4 separate regions of the Homo sapiens genome follow, and regions 1, 2 and 3 are each linked to region 4. The links come from fine-mapping of genetic effects on gene expression. A gene starts in region 4. Each other region holds a variant in brackets. All regions are shown on one strand. Distances are from middle to middle.

What was found. PIP is the estimated chance that this variant, and not a neighbour inherited with it, causes the effect. A credible set is the group of variants that fine-mapping cannot tell apart.
Region 1: its variant is the best candidate, but not a certain one, in a credible set for the expression of HACD3 in lymphoblastoid cells (GTEx, PIP 0.62).
Region 2: its variant is the best candidate, but not a certain one, in a credible set for the expression of HACD3 in lung (TOPMed, PIP 0.76).
Region 3: its variant is the best candidate, but not a certain one, in a credible set for the expression of HACD3 in lymphoblastoid cells (GEUVADIS, PIP 0.65).

Annotation. Positions count from the first base shown.
Region 1 is chr15:65,802,896-65,808,047 of GRCh38, reverse strand. The region is part of intron 1 of LOC105370866 (a long non-coding RNA gene); the gene reads right to left. Among named protein-coding and RNA genes, the nearest start is that of DENND4A, 13 kb to the right of the region's middle. The variant G/T (reference allele first, on the strand shown) is at 2,675.
Region 2 is chr15:65,578,283-65,583,414 of GRCh38, reverse strand. It overlaps INTS14 (integrator complex subunit 14), which reads left to right. Exons shown (of 12, transcript NM_001394796.1): 11 at 1,396-1,461; 12 at 3,756-4,658. The coding sequence ends at 4,007. HACD3 (3-hydroxyacyl-CoA dehydratase 3) reads right to left here. Exons shown (of 11, transcript NM_016395.4): 11 at 5,066-5,132. Among named protein-coding and RNA genes, the nearest start is that of INTS14, 30 kb to the left of the region's middle. RefSeq lists a silencer at 4,110-4,404 and an enhancer at 3,963-4,541. The variant AC/C (reference allele first, on the strand shown) is at 2,910.
Region 3 is chr15:65,759,308-65,764,459 of GRCh38, reverse strand. It overlaps DENND4A (DENN domain containing 4A), which reads left to right. Exons shown (of 33, transcript NM_001320835.1): 2 at 3,022-3,100. Among named protein-coding and RNA genes, the nearest start is that of DENND4A, 30 kb to the left of the region's middle. The variant A/G (reference allele first, on the strand shown) is at 2,449.
Region 4 is chr15:65,527,365-65,532,516 of GRCh38, reverse strand. HACD3 (3-hydroxyacyl-CoA dehydratase 3) reads right to left here and starts at 2,054. Exons shown (of 11, transcript NM_016395.4): 1 at 1,799-2,054. The coding sequence starts at 1,885. RefSeq lists a silencer at 1,972-2,191 and an enhancer at 3,230-3,730.

The DNA of each region.
Region 1 (5,152 bases), 280 kb before region 4:
AACCTGGGCAATATGGCGAGACTCCATCTCTACAAAAAATAAAATAAAAATATTAGGTGAGCACAGTGGCATATGCCTGTGGTCCCAGCTACACAGGAAGCTGAGGTGGGAGGATCACTTGAGCCCAGGAAGTCAAGACTGCAGTGAGCAGTGTTCATACCACTGCACTCCAGCCTGGGCGACCGAACAAGACTCTGTCTCAAAAACAAAAACAAAAACTTCTGCTAAGTGAAAGAAGCCAGATTCAAAAGACTACATATTGTACTATTCCATTTATATGACATTCTGGAAAAGGTAAAACTATAGGAGCAGAGAACAGATAAGTGATTGCCTGGGCTTGGGGGTGGGGTGGGGGTTCAATCACAAAGGGGTAGGTAGCACAAGAGAATTTTCATGGAGTGTGTTCATGTCTTGATTGTGGCAGTGGTTTCAATACTCTCTGCATTTGCAAAAAAAAAAAATTAAATTTTTTTTTTTTTGAGAAAGAGTTTCGCTCTTGTTGCCCAGGCTGGAGTGCAGTGGTGCAATCTTGGCTCACTGCAACCTCTGCCTTCCAGGTTCAAGCAATTCTCCTGCCTCAGCATCCCGAGTAGCTGGGACTACAGGCGTGCGCCACCACGCCCAGCTAATTTTTTCTTTTTTGTATTTTTAGTAGAGGCAGGGTTTCTTTCACCATGTTGGCCAGGCTGTAATCCCAGTACTTTGGGAGGCCAAGGTGTATGGATGACCTGAGGTCAGGAGTTCAAGACAAGGCTGGCCAACATGGTGAAATCCCGTCTCTACTAAAAATACCAAAAAAAAAAAAAAAAAAAAATTAGCCAGGCATGGTGGTGCGAGCCAGTAGTCCCAGCTACTCGGGAGGCTGAGGCAGGGAGAATCAATTGAACCCGGGAGGCAGAGGTTGCAGTGAGCCGAGATCATGCCAGTGCACTCTAATCTGGGTGACAACAGAGTAAGACTCTGTCTCAAAAAAAAAAAAAAAAAAAAAAAAGACAAAGATTTTCAGACTGGGTAAAAATACAATGTCAGGGTCTCTGACAGTATCTTTTGGCAAAAGGCAAACTTGCTAAAAAAAAAAAAGTTCAATTCTCATTCTTACAAGATTATGCACGAAACCCCATTATTTAAAAATGAAAAGTATTTCTATTTTTAGATTGCTAATATGTAGCAGCAAATAAAAAATCCATACATATCACACTCAAATACATATGTACCACAGTTCTGTGTGTCTTATAAAACTGTAAAACATATGGAGATTAAGAATCAAAGAGGCGGTTGAATTTTATGTCTAAAACAGCAAAACAAGTCTCTGAATTTTTCCCTTTTCATCCAGCTGTTTTGCCATCATAGAGCTAATTTTAGAAGGCGTAATCTTCTTATAAAATACATGTAGTTAAGAAAAGTAGTGGGTTTTTTTGTGACTTCTAATTCAGAGTTGTACAGGGTGCTTGGTTTCTGAACTAAGCCAGCAGACCGAGAATAATCTGAATCATAAGTCTAAGGCTAAGCCAAGAAACTTTTAGCTAAAGAATCATAGTGAGCTTCATAAGAGTTGAACTCCAGATCCTTTTTATTAATGGGCTTTAAAATGCAGGTAAACTTCCAAACAAAGTTTTCCCTCAATCTGGGAAAAACAAAATGAAAATCATAATGTGTGATTCTTTCCTGCAAGTTGAATGACTACGTTTGCTCTGTAATGCATGTAAGAGGAATATACATGGTTGTTTATTCTTGCTGGAGACTTCAATAGTTGCTTTCATTTGCTTTCTTTTTCTGATGAGAATCAGCAACATGGACACACTGCCATTTTTTTGAGCAATAGTATTTTTTTTAAGCAATAGTATTTTTTTTAATGTAAAGAGTCAAACCCAAAGAGACCAATCCAAATGAAATAATTTAGACCACAAAGTCCAGACTAATTTTCCCCATTTCTCAAAATAACTAGAACTGAGTACACATCAAATCTTCACTTTTCTTTGTATTATATAGACACTGTCACAAATGCAAGAGATTCTTCACTTTTCAGGTCAAATTTTCACCATCCTTTGGTCCTGTTATATGTAACAAGTGAACAATCACTTTTCATTAACTATGAATCAAAATAGATTAAGTGAAGACAATTTTATGTAACTCCTCACAGCTTCAAGTGCTATATAAGGAAGGATTTAAGAGTGCTTATAACAGCTTATTCGGTACATGACTTTCCATTAAACTACTTAACACAAATCTTAATTTATAGAAAAATTCAACCAATGCCAAGATCACCTAAAGTAAGTTATTCCAACCAGTCAAGAAACCAAAAATCTTGTATAGAAAAAAAAAAAAAAAGAGCAAAGGAAACTGGTATTCTATATTGCCCCAGAATCGTGCTTATTCTGAGGGTTCAGTTTCACCTAATTGTCCTAAAATAGTGCCCCCAGTCACACGATTAAAACTATTTGATAGAGCATGAGACTGATGATTGGCTGGATGCACTGTGTGTGGTTAGGAAAGCCCTATTACTGAACTGTTGGCCACCGGCGTGTGACATTTATAAGAAGGTGGGCAATCTACCCACAATTGCTGAAAAAAAAACTTTAAAAAAATTCTTCAAGTTTCCACATTAAAAATAACCTTATGCATGTAGGAATGGAGAAAATGTGGAAGAGTTACTCCCATTAGGCTGGCCTTGAGT[G/T]GATATGCTGTGTTTACACAATATTTTGAGATGGCCAGATAAGCAGTACTAATGGCAGCATATTACACAGTTATCATGAACCATGTGTAGCCTAAGGAGAATTTTCAGTGTATCAGGGTGGCCCACATGCTGCTATTTATCATTTCAATTTCATATCAGAATCAAAACTGAGGAAAAAGAAAACACTTTGAAACCCAAGCAAGTCATCTGGGGCCTGAGTAATGAGGCCTCTTGAAAAAAAAAATGAGAGAGAAAGAGATTAACACATTTTTGACAAACAGGCTTTGGCTTCAGAGCACTATTGCAGCTGTTAAATTCACATGCTGATGGAGTTCAGGTACGTAGACATTTACAGTAAGTTTTTACCAATGACTTTTACCAAGTAGTTGCACACATACATTTTCTGAAGCTGCATTTTAGTGACTAAAGTAACACTTTAGACAACAGGATTATGTCTTAGTTGCACTGCTATGTCTGAATAGTACAGCAATTGAGAACTCTGATATAAAGAGGGTAAACTGCCACTTAAAGAGTAACATTCTCCTGAAAAAGGCAATAGCTTTCCTTAATAAGAAGCAACACATGAAGTCTAGCAGGCATTGTTTCATATATTCCATTTTGATTGCTTAAGTTTTCAACTGGGCAGTATTCTATTTCAAGGCCATACTGTTGCAAAACCTTGTTCTGTGGTTGTAACATAGCTGCTGTGACTGTTGCAAACCGAGAAGACAGCACACAGAGAGAGAGAGAGAGAGAGATTAGGAGAAAAAAGGATTCTTTATATATTTATTTATTTTTGAGACAGGGTCTCATTCTGTTGCCCAGGCTGGAGTGCAGTGGTGCTATCATAGCTCATTGCAGCCTCAACCTCCTGGGTTCAAGCAATACTCCCATCTTCAGCCTCATGTGTAGCTGGGACTATAGGCATACACTATTATGCCCAGCTAACTTTTTCATTTTTAGTAGAGATGGGGGTTTCACTATGTTGCCCAGGCTGGTCTTGAACTCCTTAACTCAAGCAGTCCTCTCACCTGAGCCTCTCAAAGTTCTGGGATTACAGGTGTGAGTCACCACACCTGGCCCAGGAGAAAAAGTATTCTATGTAACTTTCACATGAAGGTCTTTTAGTAAATAACCAGTTTTTTTGGTTGTTGTTGTTGTTTTGAGACAAGTCTCACTCTCTTGCCCAGGCTAGAGTACAGTGGCACAATCATGGCTCACTGTAGCCTCCACCTCCTGGGGCTCAGGTGATCCTCCCACCTCAGCCTCCCAAGTAGCTGAGATCACAGGCGTGGACCACCACACCTGGATAATTTTTTTAAAAATTTTTTTGTAGAGACAGAGTTTTGCCATGTTGCTCAGGTTGGTCTCGAACTCCTAGGCTCAAGTGATCCACCTGCCTCAGCCTCCCAAAGTGTTGAGATTGCAGGTGTGGCTAGGCATGGTGGTTCTCAGCAACTTGGGAGGCCGAGGTGGGTGGATCGCCTGAGGTCAGGAGTTCGAGACCAGCCTGGCCAACATGGTGAAACCCCCGTCTCTACTAAAAATATAAAAGTATTAGTTGGGCATGGTGGCACGGGCCTATAATCCCAGCTACTTGGGAGGCTGAGGCAGGAGAATCACTTGAACCTGGGAGGTGGAGGTTGCAGTGAGCCGATATCGTGCCACTGCATTCTAGCCTGGACAACAAGAGGGAAACTTCATCTAAAAAAAAAAAAGATTACAGGTGTGAGCCACTGAGCCTGTAAAACAAAAAAATTATAAGTTCTCTGAGCTTCTACCCTGAATGAGCCCTGTTTTTAATAAAGATTAAGGTGGTTGGTTCCTGCAGAGACTCTACAGCTTAGGATAAAACAGGATTAAAGGCAAGTACTCATATAAATAAATGACTGTCTTTTTTATAATATGAGAAAATTATGAAGACGAATGGAATAACAACAGTTGATCATCATTTATCGAGTACCAATAAGGTATATGATCCTACACAATTCCTTTTGAGGTTTCATGGTTTGAGATGGGGTTTAGGAATAAAAATGAGAAACAAGAAATCTATCACATAAACTAATTGTCTTGGGTCAATGTTATTATTGGCTGATTGAGGAAAGGGAATATGTCTTTGGAATTTCCTTTGTAAATGCCTACTTGTGTGGATATATATAGACATGTGAATGTTTTTGATGATGATAATTAACAATCATCCTATACAAACACATAGGTTGTTATAAACTATGTACTTAAGAACTGGGACAACTGTTCACAAAATGAGTGACACGTAGTGTAATAAAAGAGCTGATTTGTCCTTCAAACAATTATAGGCTTGATTATAAAATACTCAAAAGCGGGGAATGATTAATATATAGTTGGGTTTGTTTTTGGAGTGGAAGGAAGGTAGTTAGTTAAAAAGCAAACAAACAAAAAATAGTCAGGGTTTTCTCCCCAGTATCCCTGAATCTGGACTAGGATTTGTTAATATCTTAA
Region 2 (5,132 bases), 51 kb before region 4:
ACTTAGCATGATGTTTTCAAGGTTTATTCATGTTGTAGTATGTATCAGTACTTCATTCCTTTTTATGGCTAATATTCCATATGTCTATATGTATATGTCACATTTTGATTATCCCTCAGTTGACGGACATTAGGGTTACCTTTTGGCTATTGTGGATAATGCTGTTACAAACATTCATGTATAAGTTTTGGTCTGAACATTTGTTTTCAATACTCTTGGGTATATATTTTAATGGGAATGGGATTGCTGGGTCAGACAGCAATTCTCTTTAACTTACTGAGGAATTGCCACACTCTCTCACAGCAGCCACACCATTTTACATTTCTGCTAGCAGTGTATAAGTGTTCTAGTTTCTCCACGTTCCTACCAATACTCATTGTTTTCCTTTTATTATTATTATCATATAGCTATCATAGTAGGTGTGAAGTGGTATGTCTTTGTTTTTGCATTTCCTTGATGACCAATAATGTGCATCTTTTCCTGTGCTTATTGGCCATTTGTGTATATTATTTGGAGAAGTATATACTCAAGTTCTTTGTCCATTTTTTAATTGGGTTTGTCTTTTTGTTGTTGGGTTTTTTATATATTCTGGATATTATGATCCTTAGCAGATACATGATTTGCAAATATCTTCTCCCATTTTGTGAGTTATCTTTTCACTCTCTTTATAGTGTCCTTTGATACACAAAGTTTTTGGTTTTGAAGAAGTCAAATTTTGTCTCTTGCTTTTGTTGTTTGTGCTTTGTGCTGTCTTAACTAAGAGATCATTGCCAAATCCAAAGTCATAAAGATTTACCCGCTGTGTTTTCTTTTTCTTCTTCTCTTTTTCTCTTGAGAAACACATCTCACTACGTTGCCCAGGCTGGTCTCAAACTTCTGGCCTCAAGCAATCCTCCTGAGTAGCTAGGATTACAGGGGCACACCACTGCACCTGGCCCGTTTTTTTCTAAGAGTTTTATAGTTTTAGCTTTTACATGTAGGTCTCTGATCCATTTTGAGTTAGTTTTTTGTATATGGTATGATGTAAGGGTCCAACTTTATTCTTTTGCTTGTGGATATCCAGTTGTCTCAGCACCAAATGTTGAAGAGACTATTTTTTCCCCATTGAATCGTCTTTGCAAAAAAGTCCCTGGCAATAGATGTATGGGTTTACTGGGTACATTTTTATGAGGCAAGTTCGTTTCTGTCAGGGGATTTATTTTACTGTCAAGCCTTTTGAAGGAGGGAGTGCTTTACTAATGTTGAACTGACATTAACTCAGAAGGGATCCTCATCTTGACATTGTAGCTGTGTTCTCATTTTCATCTCTTTAAACATTTAGATCCATTCTTTTATATTATTTCCCTTTTTTACCACAGAATTCTAATGTTGGATTTTTTTTTTTACCCTTAATAGACAGATGTACAGAAGATTTTAAGAAATGCAAGGAAACTACCTGAAAAAACACAGACATTCTATAAGGTGAGACAGACAGAAGAGGATGTGCCCAAAATATATGGTTCACGACAGTAAAACTGTGAGATGGCAGTGTGAATATGGGCAGGGGTTAGAGATGTATGACTTGTGCCTCAGTTTTTTCAAATAAACTCAGTAAAAGTGATAGGTCTGTTCCTTCCCTAAAATCCAAGAATTGGAAGAATTTAAATGGCCTAATTCTGTACAGGCAGAAGGTTTTTCTGTGTTGGGGCTGCTGTGAATGAATGACTGATGGAAGCAGCTTAGAGGACCTGTGGGTCATAGCCCTGAACTCTCCTCATCACTCCTATATGGGTATCCAGGCCAACCCCAGGCAACCAATGTATGTGGCTTCCTGGATGGGGAATTGCCCAGAACATTCTTTTTTTTTTTTTTTTTTTTTTTTTTTTTTGAGATGGAGTCACACTCTGTTGCCCAGGCTGGAGTGTCGTGGTGCAATCTTGGGTCACTGCAACCTCTGCCTCACAGGTTCAAGTGATTCTCCTGCCTCAGCCTCCTGAGTAGCTAGTACTACAGGCACGTGCCACCACGCCCAGCTAATTTTTGTTTTTTTGTTTTTGAGACAGAGTCTCACTCTGTCGGCCAGGCTGGAGTGCAGTAGCACGATCTCAGCTCACTGCAACCTCCGCCTCGCGGGCTCAAACAATTCTCCTGCCTCAGCCTCCCAAGTAGCTGGGATTACAGGTGTGTGCCACCATGCCCGGCTAATTTTTGTATTTTTAGTAGAGACGGGGTTTCACCATGTTGGCCAGGCTGGTCTTGAACTCCTGACCACAGGTAATCCGCTCGCCTCGGCCTCCCAAAGTGCTGGGATTACAGGCGTGAGCCACCGTTCCCGGCCTAATTTTTGTATTTTCAGTAGAGATGGGGTTTCGCTGTGTTGGCCAGGCTGGTCCCGAACTCCTGACCTCAGGTGATCCACCCAAAGTGCTGGGATTACAAGCGTGAGCCACCCCACCTGGCCACCCCAGAACATTTTTATTGCACCAGAGACTCTGCTTCTAGGAATGATATCTAACATTACACATTTATGAATTGCAGAGGAGATAGCCCTGCAGAATCATATGCAGCTAATCCAGAACGATTGGTGAAGAGACTGTTAAGTTACAGGGGGTGGGGTAGAGTGGGGAACATTTAGGTTTGCTCCTTGATTCTCCCCTATTGTTCTGGTGTTTGGCTGGAATTAAATTAAGTGCAGCATAAAGTATGTCATTTGTGTCTTAGCTTTCTAATTCTAAAATGTGGCACACACAGCCAGCCTTAGGCTAGCATCTTAACCAGAGAAGATACATGCTACTTTGTCTGGGTGTTATCTCATTACCTTTATGTCACTGTTGTCTTCAAACTTAATTATGTAGTAAGCTGGTGAAATAAAACAGCTTTAATCAAGAGTTCAACTGGAGAGCTTCTTAGCCAGCCAGGCCCCTCCCTAA[AC/C]TGAAGCCCATAATCCACACAGTCCATCCTCCCTGCAGAGCTTCCTACAGTCATCAGCTATTTACTCATGATGACACACTTGTTTGGCCTTCTTCTTAACTTTCCACTTTTTTAACAGATGATAGTAGAAAGATGGTCAGAGAGCCCATTTCTCTTTTCTGGTTTTATATAATGCTACATATTAGAGCTCAAAAGGGCCTAGGGAAAGTGCTTCAGCCTCTGCAGTGGGTAAGGAAGGGGTTATTCTCCTCATTTTATAAATGAGGCCTTTGAGACCCAGAGAGGCTATATAACTTGCCCAGACCACTCCACTAAGGGGTTGTTGGGGCACTTCATATTTCTCTGCTTCTATCAGTAACCAGCCTTTCTTTTTGTTGGTCTTTCCACTCTGACTCCTCCAGGGCCTCCTCTTGAGCCTGTTTATTGTCTTAGCCTGAGGCCCCACCACAGTGGCATCAGAGGGTTAAGAGCGTTTTCAGATTGAGGGCAAGTCTTTTCCATACCTAAATAACAGGGGAAAAGTACTCCTCCTTAAAGTTAGGAGTAACGAAATGATGGATGCAAAGTGCTGACTACCACATGTGGCATAAATGCTCATTAACTGTGATGATGACGTTGTTTCATTCAGCTGTCTTCCTTAGCCTGCTTCTGGTCACCTGCAGAGGAACCACTTCCCAGTAAAACCATCACATTCTTGTTACTGGCATCCCTAAATAAACATTTGTTCTCATATAAAATTGCTCCCTAAAGTTCAGTCAAGGAGAACTTATGCTAAGCTGAGCACTTAGAAAGTATGTGTTAGGAACACATTTCAGGAGCATTGGTGATTTTCTGTCTTGTTTCAGGAGCTGAACCGTTTGCGAAAGGCCGCTCTAGCCTTTGGTTTCCTGGACCTGCTGAAAGGGGTGGCTGACATGCTGGAAAGGGAATGCACACTGCTGCCTGAGACAGCCCACCCTGATGCTGCATTCCAGCTGACCCATGCTGCCCAGCAGCTCAAGCTGGCCAGTACCGGCACCTCTGAGTATGCCGCTTATGACCAGAACATCACACCTTTGCACACGGACTTCTCTGGGAGCAGCACTGAAAGAATTTGAAACTGACTTTTGGAGCTTTCCTTCTTTTTTCATTTCAACTGAAAATGCTTTAGGTAAAAACCTTTCCAGTATGTTCACCTCTAGAATAGCCACCCAAAGACCTTCCTGAGGCTGCCTCAGAAGCACCACTTGCTGTTTTGAATGACTCTACTAGTATGAGAAGGATGTGAAGGTGGTTGGCTGGTTGGGCTTTAACTTCCTGGGATTCATAATTTTTAAGCTTGGAAGATAGCTGCTGTTCCCATGATGGGCACATTTCCTGAGAAGCTTGAATGACTGATGAGCATAGAGCACCCCTGCCTTCCTCAGGAAACCTGACCGGCAGGGGCTCTCTGGCTTCCTGAAAGCTTCACCTCTTCCCTCGTTTATATCTCAACTGTAAGGGCATTTTCAAGCTTCTGTTCATGGAATGAGCAACTCAGACTGTCTGGAGCTTGCTGAGTACAAACACACCACCACTAAGTTTCAGAACTTTCCTTAGAACTTGGGCAAAATGTGGTGGTAACTCTTAAGTGCTTTTGGTATCTCTTGAGATTCTAACTTTTAAAGAGCAACCATTAATGTGTAAAATGATTCCTATTATTCAAGGTTTTTTTTTAATGAAAATAAAATATTTGATTTTCTAGAAAATGGTTTCACTATGAAACTAAAGGTCGTTTGCTTTTGGTCTGTCTTATCACTTTAATATAATTTCAACTTTCTAAGTGGCATAGATTCATAAATCATGAGGTTTCCTTATTTCTGACACTGATTAGGCCTCATTGCCTAAGCAAGGTTCTGGCTAGGTAATCCTGACAGATCACCGATCCGATTCCAAAGTTAATTATGGTTCCAATTTATCAGCTAGCTTTATGACTTTGGGCAACTTCTCAAGGCTTTGTCTGCATCATCAGTGTTTTTCATTTGCACCACCTTCCATGTAACTCTCAGGCTTCAACCAGAGCAACTGTTTTTGGTTTAACATGCTGAACTGCTACATAATATTTTGCCTGAACAAAGGTCTTTATCACTAACAGAGAACCATTAGACTAAATTATCTTTAAGCACAGTCATTAGAATTTTGATTGTAAATGTTTTAATAGAAATACACAATCTTTCACTTTCTCAGACAGCAATAAAGGGGTT
Region 3 (5,152 bases), 230 kb before region 4:
GGGGTTTCGCCCTGTTGGCTAGGCTGGTCTCAAACCCCTGATCTCAAGTGATCCTCCCACCTCTGCCTCCCAGAGTGCTGGGGTTATAGGCGTGAGCTACCATGCCCAGCCAATTTTATTTTTTTGTCCAGATGAGGTCTTGCTGTGTTGCCCAGGCTGGTCTTGAACTCCTGGCCTCAAGTGATTTTTCTGCCTTGACCTCCCAAAGTGTTAGGATTATAGATATGACCCATCACACCTGGCCTGTTTTTAGAATAATGATACAAATATTAAGTTTAATGGGGCAGAGTTATGGTCAAAACAGTGTTCTTACTATATTAAGAAACAATGTAGCAGAAAATGTATTTGAAATTGGTTGTAGCACATCCATAATTCATAATTACATCTAAATAAGTCTGATATTCTACCAATAAAATAAATAATTTTCAAAATTTACAAGTATTTCTATATACATACAGTATTTTTACTAGAAATTTTTGTGACAACTGATGTTGAATTTTAAAAAATGTTTCAGCAAGTCAGTATTTACATTGTTTCATTGCCAATTGTCAGCAATAACATTTTAGAGATATTTGAAAAGTACATTTACCACTGCATATTTACTCCCTGAAATTTTTTCAGGGAACTTTTGGCATCCTCATTTTAAAAATACATATATCTATCCTGACAATATTTAGCAGTTCAAAAGGTAATAAGATTATGAATATATTATTTTGCTTTCATTCTTTTCACCCTCTATTTCAAGACACTATCGAATTTTTTTTTTTTTTTTTTTTTTTTGAGACAAGGTCTTGCTTGGTCACTCAGGCTGGCTGGAGTGCAGTGGTGTGAACAAGGCTCACTGCAGCCTCGACCTCCTGGGCTCAAGCAATCCTCCCATCTCAGCCCCACCAAGGAGCTAGGACTACAGGACTGCACCACCAACACCTGGCTACTTTGGTATTTTTTGTAGAGACAGGATTTTGCCATGTCTCAAACTCCTGAGCTCAAGTGATCCACACGCCTCAACCTCCCAAAGTGCTGGGATTATAGACATGAGCCACTGTACCTGGTGTTTATTAAATTCTTGACTCAGTTTATGCCCTTACCCCCTTCTCTTCCACTTCTCACAGACACACACATGTCAAGGACCTAACCAAGTTAGATGAATCTTGTGTCTGGGTGTAGCTGCTCCTGTTTCCTGGTTGTTAGTAGATATTCCATGTTGGTTAAAGCTGTGGTTTCTTCCTCTTGAGGTGCTTATGATTTCTGTGCTTGTTTCCCCGCAGAAGCTATTGACTCTTACTGAACTTCATTTTGTGTGTGCATGTGTCCAGTGTTAAAGCTAACCTATAGTGCTTGGTACAATACAGTTGGTCTGGCTCTACTCTTAAGACTTTGTCGGTGGCATCATCTTTCCATCTAGTGTTTAAAATGACTCATAATTACAAGTTACTAAATTACTTAATTTAAAAAAATAAGATACTGGCATATTGAATTCTGTAATATGACATTGCTTATTCTCTTGTTCAGAAGAATTTGGTTCCTTGGTGAGATTTGATATAAATGATTCTATGTAAGTACATTTGCCCCTTGGTATCCTCCATGGATTAGTTCCAGGATACCCCCAACCTCCACCCGATGGATACCAAAATCCACATATACTTAAGCCCCTTACGTAAAATGGTGTGGTATTTGCACATAATCTACACACATCCTCCTGTATACTTTAAATCACCTCTAGATTATCTATAATACCTAATTCAATTAAATGCTATATAAAGTTATACCGAATTATTTTGTTAAATTTGTATTACATTTTTTGTTGTATCATTCATTCATTCATTCATTGGAGATAGAGCTTTACTCTGTTACCCAGGCTGGAGCACAGTGGTGTGATCAGGGCTCACTGCAGCCTCAGCTTCCTGGGCTCAAGTGATTCTCGTGCCTCAGTCTCCTGAGTAGCTGAGACTACAGGCACGTGCCACCCTGCCTGGCACTAACTTTCTTCTTTTTTTTTTAGAGATGGGGGCCTCACTATATTGCCCAGGCTGGCTTTGAACTCTTGGGCTTAAGCAATCCTCCTGCCTTGGCCTCTCAAAGTGCTGGGATTACAGACGTGAGCCACTGAGCCCAGTCTGTTATTTTTATTGTTTTTGAAAAACATCTTTTCAGGCCATGTGCGGTGGCTCACGCCTGTAATCCCAGCACTTTGGGAGGCCGAGGCAGGCAGCTCACCTGAGGTTGGGAGTTCGAGACCAGGCTGACCAATATGGAGAAACCTGGTCTCTACTGAAAATACAAAATTAGCTGGGCATGGTGGCACATGCCTGTAATCCCGGCTACTCGGGAGGCTGAGGCAGGAGAATCTCTTGAACCCAGGAGGTGGAGGTTGCGGTGAGCCGAGATCGAGCCACTGCACTCCAGCCTGGGCAACAAGAGCGAAACTCTTGTCTCAAAAACAACAAC[A/G]ATAACAACAACAAAAAACATCTTTTCAATCCATGGTATGGATGTGGAACTCATGGATACAGAAGGCTGACTGTAGTATCTTTGAAATTTGTAATAAAGGGAAAGTACTTTTGGGTATTGACTTCTTTGAAACTTTTTTTTATATGGAAGTTACTTGAGTCTATATTTGAATTATGTTAAATGTATACATTTTTCCCCTGTGAATGAGGCTCTGTACAGTGCCCCAGAAATAGTCATGTTGTTCTTTCTCACACTCTTTGCCCTGTACACATTTCCTCTTTTGTACCCTTATTTATTCTTCTTGCTTTCTTTTTTTCCCCCTTATCTGCTAGTTTTTTCTTTTTTTTTCTCATTGCCTCTCTTCAGCATGTTTTGTTTTTAAAGTATGTATTTATTCTTTACTGAAATCTTGTTTTTAAAAATTGCTTATTGGCTCTTAACCACAAGAAAACAATAAATGCAATCAGTTTAGTAATTATCACTGTTAACAGAACTTTAAGTATCCACAGGCATATTGGGGGAAATATTTGATTGGAATGAATTTAAGTCCAATTCTTACTGTTTTCAATACAGTTATTTCTCAAACTCTGAGGCTGCGGAGTTCACACATTGAAATCTGTCATCTTTTTCAGAGAGAAACTTTCGGTAATGTGTAAGTAGTTTTTGGCTTTCATTTTGATTTGTTTCAGTTAGCTATTTCCTGTGTTAAACACAGTGAAACCTTAGTTTTCCAGAAGTCTTAATAATTTGGAATATATTCTCCATGTAATAATTATGGGTAACAAATGATACAAAATAATTCATTGAAAGATGTCTCAGGATGTGCCTTGGATCACAATTAATTCAACACCATTTATTAGAGACAAAATCTTCAATGTGAAGTATACGGTTCCCTTTTAGTAGTTATTTCCTGCGTTCTATTGTGAATGAGTTCAAATTATTAAATTTTGTGAAAAATACCCAAAAGAACTAATGAAAAGGAATTTTATGAATAAATTTATCTCAAATATTTACTTATAATAGCTAGTTATTTCCAAGGATAAGGTGGTAGTTCTCAAAAAAACTTATTAAATATATGTTTTCATGATAGTACTATATCTCTTCTGTTTCCGCTTTTTTTTTGAGACAGAGCCTCCCTCTGTTGCCCAGGCTGGAGTGCAGTGGCGTTGATCTTGGCCCATTGCAACCTCTGCCTACAGCGTTCAGGTGATTCTTGTTCCTCAGCCTCTCAAGTAGCTGGGATCATAGGCATGCACCATCATGCCTGGCTAATTTTTGTATTTTTGGTAGAAACGAGGTTTCACCATGTTGGCCAGGCTGGTCTTGAACTCCTGACCTCAAGTGATCTGCCCATCTCGGCCTCCAAAAGTGCTGGGATTATAGGCATGAGCCACTCTGCCCGGCCTCTTACCCTTCTTTCTACGTAGCAAGACATAAAACTATTTTATGCAATAGTGACTATCTGCTTTAGTTTGCCTGCTTTAGTTTGTTTATTTATTTATTTATTTATTATTTTGTGACAGAGTCTCACTCTTGCCCAGGCTGGAGTGCAGTGGCATGATCTCAGCTCACTGCAACCTCCGCCTCCCAGGTTCAAGCAATTCCCCTGCCTCAGCCTCCTGAGTAGCTGGGATTACAGGCGTGCGCCACCATGCCCCGCTAATTTTTTGTATTTTAAGTAGAGACGGGGTTTCACCGTGTTAGCCAGCCTGGTCTCGAACTCCTAACCTCAAGTGATCTGCCCGCCTTGGCCTTCCAAAGTGCTGGGATTACAGGCATGAGCCACCACGCCTGGCCATGCTTTAGTTTAAATAACATAAAGTTAGCATCTAGGAAAAAGGAGGATGTTTTAGTTTCTTCATTATGATGGAATGAAAATACTTTACCAGAGTAATTTTTAAGGTTATGTGTATTTAGAGCTTATAATATAAAATTCATGTACACACGAAAGCACATAAATAAAGGCTGATATAACCTTTGACCTAATAATTCTATTTCAACAAATGTATCCTGAAGAAATACTAGAGTTGTGTCCAGAGGTTTATCAAGATTATTCATTGTACCCTTTAAAAAAAATTAGCAAAATAAGTAGAAGTAATAAATGATCTACAGTAAGCACATAGGTCAAAAATGGTATATCCATAAAATAAAATACTATGCAGCCCTTTAAAAATTGTTTTCAAAGACTAATGAACTGGAGAAAAAAAGTTAAACACAAAAGTCCTTTTGTTATTCTGCAACTTTCTTAAATAAATAGATGGTCAATTGGGTAAAACTGCTCTTTTTTTGGAGCACTTGTTATATGCAACGAGCTGAGGGTGATAAGTCAGCATTTAACAGTCTTCTCAGAACAGATTGTTAGCACTTTCTTTTTAAGTGTCCATCTAGGAGGCATTTCTGAAAAGGTTAAGCCCTTTATTATATGTAGAAATCCTATATGTAAGGAAATTGCTGCATAGGCGCCATTAGTATGTAAATAAAACAAGTAGAAACATTTAATCTTCTTTAGTCCCATTTTTTTTCCTTTTTTTTTCCAGATGGAGTCTCGCTCGGTCGCCCAGGCTGGAGTGCAGTGGCGCGATCTTGTCTCACTGCAACCTCCGCCTCCTGGGTTCAAGCAATTCTCCTGCCTCAGCCTCCCGAGTAGCTGGGACTACAGGCACATGCCACCACACCTGACTAATTTTTGTTATTTTTAGTAGAA
Region 4 (5,152 bases):
AACATAGTGAATTACACGCATGCACCACCATGCCCGGCTAATTTTGTATTTTTAGTAGAGATGGGGTTTCTCCATGTTGGTCAGGCTGGTGTCGAACTCCTGACCTCAGGTGATCCTCCCGCCTCGGCCTCCCAAAGTGTTGGCATTACAGGCGTGAGCCACAGCACCTGGCCTGTTCCGTACTTTTTTATTGACTGCTGGAAGAACCCTCTCTAGACGGGGACTTTGATCCCCATCTACAAAAGATTTTGTTTGTTTTTTCCTATTCTATTAAACCACCGTGGAGCAGTAGAGGGAGACAGCACAGAACATTTACTCATACTCTGACCCAAAAGTATAGCCTCAGTCTGGATGAACACATTAAACGACACACCATGCAATGTCATAGCCTATTTAAAGGCATTCTGGCCACTACTGTCTTCATCTTTCAACAGGAAAACTGTTTATATTCCAGAAGCAAAGATTATATTAAATTCAATAAATTCAAGTCGACACTCAGAAAGCACCTACATTTTACCGGATCCACGGGTGATCCAAGCAGATGCCTGTTCAGAGGCAGAGAGAGTTAAATGGAGTGAAAGAGATGACAAAGTGCCATAGATGTTAAGGAGAAGTTTCCAATAAGAATGACTGTAGAAAGAACCTTCCAGAGGCTGGGCGCGGTGGCTCATGCCTGTAATCCCAGCACTTTGGGAGGCCGAGACGGGTGGATCACCTGAGGTCAGAAGTTCGAGACCAGCCTGGCCAACATGGTGAAACCCTGTCGCTACTAAAAATACAAAAATTAGCCGGGCATGGTGGCACGCGTCTATAATCCCAGCTACTCGGGAGGCTGAGGCAGGAGAATCCCTTGAACCCGGGAGGCAGAGGTTGCGGTGAGCCGAGATCGCGCCATTGCACTCCAGCCTGGGCGACAAGAGCGAAACACCGTCTCAAAAAAAAGAAAAGAAAAAAAAAGAAAGAAAGAAAGAAAGAACCTTCCAGAATGAAAATTCCAGTTTCTCAAAGCCCAGAATCTTTAGTTTGGACAGAGACATGAGGATACACAGGTCCTGGAGTCTCCACTACTACGTGCCTTCAGCTTGCTTACATTAAGGGCCAAGGAGCTCAAACAGAAATGCTTAATGTAACTTAAGAACTTTTTAAGTTCTCTGTGCAACTCAGCAAACCTGAGCTCACAACCTTCAGAACAGAGGGGGAAATCACTTCCTCCAGCTCTTGTGAATTTTAAAATTAAAAGTAATGAGAATGATTTCCATCACTGAACGGTTGCGAGGTGGGTGTGGCCCCCCACCCCTCCCCCTCCCCCACCTCCGGCAGCGCCCAGCCTCAGTAACGTCCGAGGGGCCTGGCTGGACCTCTCAGGCCAGCGGCAGGCATTCAGCTACGGCCCAGCAAGCCGCTGTCACAACCGCACCCCTGACCCAACAAGCTCATCCCACATCTCGAAGGGCCCCAGCCAACTCGAACCCCGACGGCCAGGCAGCCAGGGCCGGGCCTGGGCTCCATGAAGGCCGCCGACTGCGAACAAAGAAGAGGCCCGGGGTAGCCTGAGAGGCCCAGGCCGAGCTCTCTGGGGACCCGAAGGTTCCTGCAGCCCTCGGGGGGTTGTGCCCCCGGCCCGAGATCTGCAGATGAGCCTCGAAAAGCGCCAGCACGCCGTAAGCGCACCGCGTCGCCGACCTTGTTGGCGCACTGCAGGCTCTCCGGCGCGCACGCGGACAAAGGGGGCAGGGGTCCTGGCGGGTACCCGGAGCCGCGATCCCGCGCGCTTCCCGCCGCCCGACCCGGCCTTTACCTGTACGTCACTCAGCTCCACGCGCAGATATAGCTCGCGGTGTCGCTGAGCCCAGTAGACATGCGGCGTCAACACCTGATTCTCCATGGCCACACTGCCCAGGGCGCGGGGAGGCTAGGCTCGCTGCGCCTCGCTGCCTCAGGTAGTGCTCTGCTGGCGCGAGCAGAAAGCAGGCCTCAAACCCTAGCGCTCCTGAGCGCCTGCAACCCGGCACCTCGAGATACCCCACGCTCGCGGGCCGCGCCTGCGCAGTGACGCGCCGGGATGGCGGCGGCGCCAGCAGCGGGCCTTGGCGCGAGCCGGGCGGGGGCGGGGCGCAGGCGGGATAGGGGCAGGCCGGGGCACAGAGACGCCGCAGCTCGCCGCGGCCGCCTAGGGAATTGGAATCAGCGGGTGGTCTGCTCTCCCCACTCGTCTTCAGGGACATGCTTTAAAATAAGCTTTAAAATAAAAAAGGCTGGAGACTTATGGGGGACCGATCAGCCTGGAAAAGGGTTTGGGACTGGTGTCTCTGGACGGTCCTTCGCATTCTGTTTACTGAGTACCTACTGTGTGCCTGGGTTTCAAAGCTAAACACTGGAACAACAGAAGTGAGACACAGTCCCTTCTGTCTTAGAACTCCCAGCCTATTAAAAGATGCAAGTAATTACAGATGAAATGAGGATAATAATGGTGATAGGGGACATGGTGTGGGAGCAGCGTGGAAGAGCGTTCCAACAAGGGAAAATAAAGACCAGGGCAGCGCTGCCCAATAAAACTGTAGGTGATGATGGAAATATTGCACATTGCGCTCTTTAATACGGTAGCCACTAGCCACATGAGGCTTTTGAGTACTTGAACTGAATAACCGAATTTTCAATTTTACTCACTTCTGTTTTTTTTTTGTTGTTGTTGTTGTTTTGTTTTGAGACGGAGTTTCTCTCTTGTTGCCCAGGCTGGAGTGCAATGGCGCGATCTCGGCTCACCGCAACCTCTGTCTCCCGGGTTCAAGTGATTCTCCTGCCTCAGCCTCCCGAGTAGCTGGGATTACAGGCATGCGCCACCGGCTAATTTTGTATTTTTAGTAGAGACGAGGTTTCTCCATGTTGGTCAGGCTGGTCTCGAACTCCCGACCTCAGGTGATCCGCCCGCCTTGGCCTCCCAAAGTGCTGAGATTATAGGCGTGAGACACCGCGCCCGGCCAACTTTATTCACTTCTAATTTAAACTTAAATATCCATATTTTTGGTGGCTATTCTATTGGACAGTGCAGGAGACTGTCTCAAAAAAATAGGAAACTCAAACTAGAGACAACACTCATTTATGTCTTACTTAAGCTGTCTTGTCTGTATCGGGTTTCATCCCCAAGTTCTTCTGCAGAGAAGAATTTAATGGGAAGAAATATTTATATGAAAACTAGAACTCTGGGACAAAAATGGAACTCATATTCAATCCTGTTAGCTCCCATTTATTTAGCAAAGTGATTCTATTAGCACCCGTTTGTTTAGCAGAGGGATCTAACGCTGAAAACAAATTCTGCTAGCTCTCTGGAAACATTTAGCTCAAGAGTGGACAGAATAAAATATAGAGAGTTTTCATATAATGAATGTGCTGAGCTCACAAAGAGTTTATGATGATAGGAACTGAGGGCCGTGGGAACCATTGTCAGACATTTGAGAGCCAACCCTTGAGAACGGGATGGTGAAATGCGAGTAGGAATTTGACTGAGTAAGAACCAGGTAGGCCGTGGAAGCACAGGGCGCTTGCTTCGTTCACAGGTGAAAAGATGTGGACCAGGTGCAGCGTCTCACGCGTGTAATCCCAGCACTTTGGGAGGACGAGGCGGGAGGATCGCTGGAGCCCAGGAGTTTGAGACCAGCCTGGGAAAAATGGCAATACACTGTCTCTACAAAAAATACAACAGTTAGCAGGGCGTGGTTGGCGCGCCCCTGGGGTCCGAGCTACTCGGGAGGCTAGGGTGGGAGAATTGCTTAAGCCCAGGAGGCGAGATCGCGCCACTGCACTCCAGCTTGGGTGACAGTGTGAGGCCCTGTCTTAAAATTTAAAAAAGAGAGAGGGTTGTGGAAGGAGGTTCTGCTGCTAGGGATTAAAGGCATAGAGGAGAGAGGTCGCCCTGAATCTGGAAAGGCAGAGGGTGCATTAGGAAAGTCTTTGTTTGCTTCACTGAGGTGCCTATACTGTATCCCACAGACACATGGGAGCCAAGGAAGTTTGTTAACCTGGAGATTAGTAAAATCAAATGTGCTCAGCAAGAAAGACCTGTCAGAGAGGAGGAGGAATTGGTAGTAGGCAAAGCAATGGGAGACCAATGCAATCTGCCAAGAATGAGTTGATGAAAGCAGTGACGTTGACAGTCTTGAATTTTAACGATAAAATATTTTTTATGATAAAGGTATTTTATTGTATTGTGTTTACTACAATGCAGATGCAATATGGGGCACTTTTTAAAAACATTGAGATGTAGTTTACATATAGAACATGGGTAAATCTTAAATATTCAGTTTAAGCTGAATTTTTCTATATGTATATATCCATGTAATTATCACCTAGATCAAGATCTGGAATATTTCCAGTATCCCAGAGGTTATTTCATGTTAAAATATCTTTGCCTCTCAGTAATTACTATCCTGATATATCACCATAGAGTCTTTTTTGTCTGTTCTGTTCTTGAATTTTATATAAATGGAACCTACAGTGTCTGGTTTCTTTTTCTTTTTTCTTTTTTTTTTTTTTGAGACAGAGTCTTGCTCTGTCACCCAGGATGGAGTGCAGTGGTGCAGTCTCGGCTCACTGCAACCTCGGCCTCCCAATTCAAGCGATTCTCCTGCCTCAGCCTCCCAAGTAGCTGGGATTACAGCTGTCCGCCATCACGCCCAGCTAATTTTTGTATTTTTAGTAGAGACGGGGTTTCACCATGTTGGTCAGGATGGTCTCTAACTCCTGACCTCGTGATCTGCCTGCCTCAGCCTCCCAAAGTGCTGGGATTACAGGCATGAGCCACCGTGCCTGGCCCCTAATTTTTGTATTTTAGTAGATACGGGGTTTCACCATCTTGGCCAGGCTAGTCTTGAACTCCTGACCTCATGATCCACCCGCTTCAGCCTCCCAAAGTGCTGGGATTACAGATGTGAGCCACCGCACCGGGCCTTGGTTTCTTTCATCAACATAATGTGTATGAGATTTATCCATGTTGCTGAGTGAATCAGTAATTCATTCTTTTAGTTTTTGGTTTTGCTCTGTAGTAGTTGACTATATGAGTATACCACAAATTATTTATCCATTCTCCTATCGATGGATATTTGTGTTGTTTCTAGTTTTTAGCTATTACAAATAAAGCTGCTCTGAATATTTGTGT